Linked DNA regions of Homo sapiens. The protein of the gene in region 1 purifies or fractionates together with the protein of each later gene. This does not show direct contact. Each region holds a gene or a part of one and is shown on either strand. Other genes may lie near its edges.

What was found.
Region 2: the proteins of OR6A2 (region 1) and KIAA1549 purify together in Homo sapiens (affinity purification with mass spectrometry; one large-scale study listed by BioGRID and IntAct). This does not show direct contact.

The regions. Positions count from the first base shown.
Region 1 is NC_000011.10:6,791,236-6,793,962, forward strand, and holds the end of OR6A2 (olfactory receptor 6A2), read right to left. Parts: 3' UTR 501-2,727; downstream 1-500. UniProt on the Homo sapiens protein: Odorant receptor.
Region 2 is NC_000007.14:138,831,390-138,834,889, reverse strand, and holds part of KIAA1549 (UPF0606 protein KIAA1549), read left to right. Parts: 3' UTR 1-3,500. UniProt on the Homo sapiens protein: May play a role in photoreceptor function.

The DNA.
Region 1 (2,727 bases):
ATCTTTGTTGAAAGGCATATTGTGTATTGTCACTAATTCTGGGAAGGCGGGGGCCATTGGTTTTCATGAAGTGTGACTATGAAACATGAAAATCACACAAGGCAATCTTGATCTGAGGAATGCTTCTAAGAGAAAATGAATACACCTGCCCTATAGGCCCGCTTCTCTACCAAGCACACGGAGATGTCCACTTATTCTTGCTGGCACCAAATGGTGATATTCAAAAGAGCTGGCATAATTTTTTAGAGTTGCTAAGTATATAAAGCACTAACTTTATCAATTTTGTTAATTATACTTCACTTCATCTCTGTCTTATCAATTAGCTAAATAAAAACAGCATCAATTCATGAATATCATGATAATAAAAAAATTCAGGTAAATATTCAAAAAAGTCAAGTGTTAGCTGTACATATTATTGTAACTATAAAGGAAGGGAAAATATATCTTTATTTTATGAAAGCCAGTAAAATAAATCAAACTTCTCTTAAAATATTTGGTAAGGAAAAACTAACAACGTGTTTCTTTTTAAAATAAACTTCTAAATTTTGGAACAATATTAGGCTTACAGAAAAATTGCAAAGATGCTAAAGAGAGTTTTTCACACACCCATCTCTCAGTTTGTTTCTTCTAATATATTCATCCTTCATTAGCATACATACTTGTCAAAATAAGAAACCAAAATTGATACATCACTGTTAAACTATTCAGATTTTGCCATTTTATTCAGATTTTATTATCTTTTCTGTTAGTATTACTTTATGTTCCAGGGTCCAATCCAATATACCGTACTCCATATAGGTATCTTGTCTCTTTGACAAGCTTTGATCTGATATTTCTCAGTCTTTACTTGTTCATAACTGTAAGGGTTTTTTAATGAAGGGAAATAGGGTTTACAGAGCTGCAGAACAATTGTTATTTTTAAAATGCTGTTTATCAAGAAGGATTTTTGTTTCCTGATCCTGGTCAATGTGATGTTTTAGCAAACAGTGAAATACACTGGCTTATTAGTCTCAAATAAAAATTGTTAATCACAATCTAGAATTCACCTGTACAAGGTTTGTAGTGGACAAAAAATTAAAATAAGGACAAAAAGGAAAATTAAGAATGTGCTGTGAAGAAACTTAAAAGGCAGACTGAGAAATCTGGAGTTTACTCAACATTGGAAACCACTAGACACCTGGAGCACAGAAGTCATTTATATTAATCCTCACTTGCCTGTAGTTGTTAGTTGCCTCTGGCCACTCTGAATAACCCGGGTAGATCCAGTACTCCCACCTCTTGTACTGATGCAAGAGACTAGAAGCTTCTCCAGATACTGTATTAGCAAAGGGGAATTATAAAAGACTTATATTATCTAAGCAATACTTTGAAAGACCGGCAGATTACAAAGATGGTCGAAAACAAACAGGATCAAATGGAACAAGGATAAAATAAAGTTCTACATCTACGTTTATGGGAAAAATCAGTTACATAAATGGAGGATGGGGGATACTTAATCTGATAATCAATACTTCACATGAAAAAGTTTACAAAGTTTTGTGACCTCAATTTCAATATGAGTCCTGAGGGTCATATGTTCACTAAAAATTCAGTCCCCGTCTGGAGAGGTGTCAATCTCACCATAGTACATGGGACTCAAACTCATTCGTGGTTTATTGAAAGGTGAGTATGTGAGGAATACTGTGCTAAACCCTATTCCAATACTTGAAATCAGAATTAGAGGTGTTTTAAAGCATTGGAAAATAAAAGAAAAGCACAATGAAGAAATTCAACATTATGCTTTTACTTCCTATTAACTCGAGTTAACTTATAAAAGAGTTTATAAAAGAGTTGTAATAACAATGCCTAGAGGAGGACTCTCCCATCCCTGATCACAACCCCATTTCAGAAACTTCTTCTACGGGGACACTTCGACAGTAGATTTTTGATGAACTTTATATCCAGTCATTTAAAAAATTATTACAACAAGATACTTATACTGTTTAGGCACAAATAGATATGCACATTATATTAAAACTTTTAATAAGTATGGGCTAGCAAATAATGCATGATATCCTTGGTAATATCCTTTTGTAAATTTTATTAAGTAACATACAGCAATAAAGTTAGATCCCACATCTTGAGCAACAGTTGGATCCATATCTGGAGATAGAATCTTCACTGTCTTCAGAGTTCTGGTTGTCGGGTGACAGTAGGGAGCTAAATTTCTGAAAATCATACTGACATACCCTGTATCCATCTCCCTGTCCAGATAAATAAAGTTATATATAATATGGGCTAAGAAAAAAAGCATTTAAATAAATATATTGATGGCAATGCTTAGCCACAGAATGCAATTTACAGGTGTAAGCAGTCCAGCATTATCTAGCCAGCATTTTAGTCATATTCCTTCTAGTCTTGTTTAAACAAGCAAATATGGCTGATATTTTTGATACTGTTATATAACATAATATTTTTATTAAGTTAGAAATATTTTTTCTTTCATTAACTCTATTTAGATCACTTTATTTCAATTTCTGCATAGTTTTCCATGTAACATATGAGCTACAATTTATTTGACCAGTGCCCTGTTTGCGAAAGTTGAGCATATTTTGCTTATTTCCTTTCCTTGTTTCTGTATTTATAAGTAAAAGTGTCTATCTGCACAAATCTTTCCGAATCAGAATGGTTGCAATATTTTTAGGATTTGTAATACATATTTTCAAAATTTTTTTCTGGCAAGGCTGA
Region 2 (3,500 bases), on another chromosome or scaffold:
TCCCCCGCCACCTCCCAGGCACCGTAGTTGTGAGAATCAGATGTGATCATGTGTGCAGATGTCCTGTGAGGAGGGAGCATAAAGCACTGTGAAAATGTAGCATGCTGTCTATGTGGACGCCCTAGGATGAGTGATGTGAAACGCTGCACTACTGCGGTGAATGGGTTCACACATGGGTAATGAGCAAAACCGAAAGCTCGGTGTGACTCAGTTTCCTCACTCCCATTTTGCTTTAATTTCACTTCCTTCACCAATTTTCCGATTGCATTTATTAAGCATCTTTCTGCTCCCGACTTTCTGGTGTCTCTGGCACCAAATAACCCAGCAGACATGAGCCTTGCCTTCTGAGATTTTAGAATCTAAGATAGCACGAGTGGGTATAGAAGATGGAAGATACCGATAAATAACATGGTTTAAGTGTCAATAAAATTCATTCGAAGAGATCAGGCGCGGTGGCTCACGCCTGTAATCCCAGCATTTTGGGAGGCTGAGGCAGGTGGATCACTTGAGATCAAGAGCTTAAAACCAGCCCAGGCAACATGGCAAAACCCCGTCTCTACAAAAAAATACAAAAACTAGCTGGGTGTGGTGGCGCATGCCTGTAGTCCCAGCTGAGGCACGATAATTGCTTGAACCCGGGGGGTGGAGGTTGCAGTGAGCTGAGATTGCACCACTGTACTCCAACCTGGGCGACAGAGCAAGACTGTGTCTCAAAAAGAAAAAAATTTGTTCAAAAGACATAAATGAATTAGGCACCCAGAAGAAGTTGCATGTTTGGAAATGCAATATCTTGGGGAGACGTCAACTTCTGAAGTGACTTTGAAGGCAGGGCAGCTACCCAGGCAAATGGCGTGGAAGGAAGAGCTGAGAGTGGGCCTGGGAAAGGCTGTAGGGAAGGAGTGAAGCTGTCACTGAAATGAACTTGATCTTGATCTGCTTTGATATGGGGACAGAATCCCCGACTGCACTATTGAGGGAGTTTCAGAAGAGAAGGAAGAGGTGCTGGAAGGATGCTTTTGCAGTCATGCAGCAAGGAAACGACCAGGGCTGTGAAGATCTACAGAGGAAGTACTCCAGTGTGGGGGAGGCAAGGGAAGAGGACGAAAATGATGAGAATGACACTGAGGTCATTGTTTAGAGCAGATCTCAAGCAGCCGTTTGGCCACGCCATATCCTTTGTGGAGCATAGTGGGTTATCTATCTGTCTGTCTGTCTATGTATCTGTCTATCTATCTATATATATATTCAGCTTCTTTACTGCTACCTACACATTTTTCTCCAAATTTTATTAATTTCATAGTGTTTTGATTTGGGTGGCAGATGACTTTTAAGCAGTGGGTGTTTGCCGGCCAGATCTTTCCTGGCATGCGGACTGTGAGGCAAAGCACGGGTGAAGGTAGGCGCTAAAGGCTTTGGGCTAAAGCCAGCACGCGGTTCTGTGCTATAGGAGTCTCCCGTTTCCCGTGGACAGGTTCAGCGTTCCTTCTTTCGCACAACTTTTTTCTAAGTGTTCCAGTGACCAAGCCAGTCATTCGGACACTGATTTGCAGTGCATTGGCAGTAATTCACAAATTAGTTGTTATATAAGTCTCTCTCATCCCTTTCACACTAGATTCTCAGACATGAATGAATTTGTCGTTTGGAAGGAAAGCTGGGTAACGTTTTGGGCACAGGGGAAGGAGGACTCCGGTCTTAACTCCCACGCTAACTTTAGCTCAAGTGGAGTTTTCACCGTGGTCATTTCTACCTCCGGAGCAAGGTGCCAGCGCCAGTACTAGAGCCTGCTTATCCACATTTGCCCTGGACAGGAGCAGGAGGAAGTCCACTTCTGTACCGGCAGACAGAGCATGTGAACACAAAACACATTTCTATGGCATAGTCAACTGAACTTCATTTTTACATTTAATCTAACATGTTAACACGTTCTAACAGGGTTTCTATGAGCAGCTGCTGTAACATACTCATCAACTATGATAGACTTAACACTTGTTACCTAATGAACAAGGAGGATGTGCATTTCGGGTTTCTTTTGATATTCGTGGAGGTGATTGTCAGTGTTTAAACAGGACTACTTTCTCCACTATGAAGATGACTTGGAAATCGCAACATCATGGTACATTGCTAAGTCCATGCTTGTGTGTGTGACAGTAGGCTTGATAATTTATCTTAAAACACAGCAGCATTGAAATTTAGGAAAAGAATATTAAATGCCTTTGGAAACATGAAACAAAGTTAGGAGCCAGTAAGAAAGTGACAGAAGCAATGAATGTCTTAATGCAGTATAGTTAAAATGGCTTCCCACAGGGTAGATAATTATCCAGGATCCTTCCTTTTCCTTCTTCCTCCAGGTTTTTCAGGGGTCACTTCACATTTCTAAAGAAAGAGTGAATAGGCTGGGCATGGTGGCTCAAGCCTCTAATCTCAACGCTTTGGGAGGCTGAGGCAGGAGGATCGCTTGAGGCCAGGAGTTTGAGACCACCTTGGGCAACATAACGAGACCCCGTCTCTACAAAAAAAATTTAAAAATTAGCTGAGCATGGTGGCATGTGCCAGTAGTCCCAGCTACTCGAAAGGCTAAGACTGGAGGATCGCTTGAGCCAATGAGTTGGAGGCTGCAGTGAGCTATAATCACGCCACTGCACTCCAGCCTGGGCTGCAGGGTGAGGTCCTGTCTCTGGAAAAAAAAAAAAAAAAAAAAGGAATAGGTAAAAGGGACAGAGGTGAAATTTTGAGTGACTTGAGTCTCTTGCAGTCCCTGATTACACAGAACCTTTCTGGGCTACTTGGAGCATCACGAATAGTCTTTCCTGTACTTACCAGATTTCAAGTATTCATAACTTGACTCCCTAAGTGTACAAGTTGGGAATAGTACAGGGCCAAGTTCAAGTCGCATATGCTGTACTGTTCCTCCTGCAAATGTGGGGAAAGAAGAGGGAGATACTAGAGGAACTGAGGCTCCACCCATTCATTCAGTTGCTCTAAGCACCAGAGGACTTGTTTCAGAAAAGGGGAGTGGGAACGCCCTCGACTTTGCCCTCCTCCGGAGCATCTCTGGGACGCAGGGAGTCTGGCTAGCGTTAATAGGAAAGGTTGCTCGGCAGAGCTGCCCTGGAGTACTGACTTGTCTCTCCCTCCTTTGTCAAGGTCCATGTTTTTCTGGCTCTTCCTGCACACTCATCCCTAGATTATGAGCGTTAATGTACGAAATGTGCAGAGCAAATTGAGGCCAACTGTGGCATCAATACTGCAACTTAAACTTGACAATCATGGTTTGCTGGTCCTCAAACAGGCACTGAAATCTCAGTATGGGTATACGATTTAATAATCGGCCCCTCCCTTCTATTTGTCGGTTTTATGTTTCTATCCTTCAATAGCTGCACTGTTTTCTAATGTGCTGTAGAGTTTTTGAAATAATTTATGCAAGTATTTGGTTTCCATGTTTACAATTTATACAGCTTTCCTAGCATTTTAAATGGAAATGTCAATAAATGCTATGAATT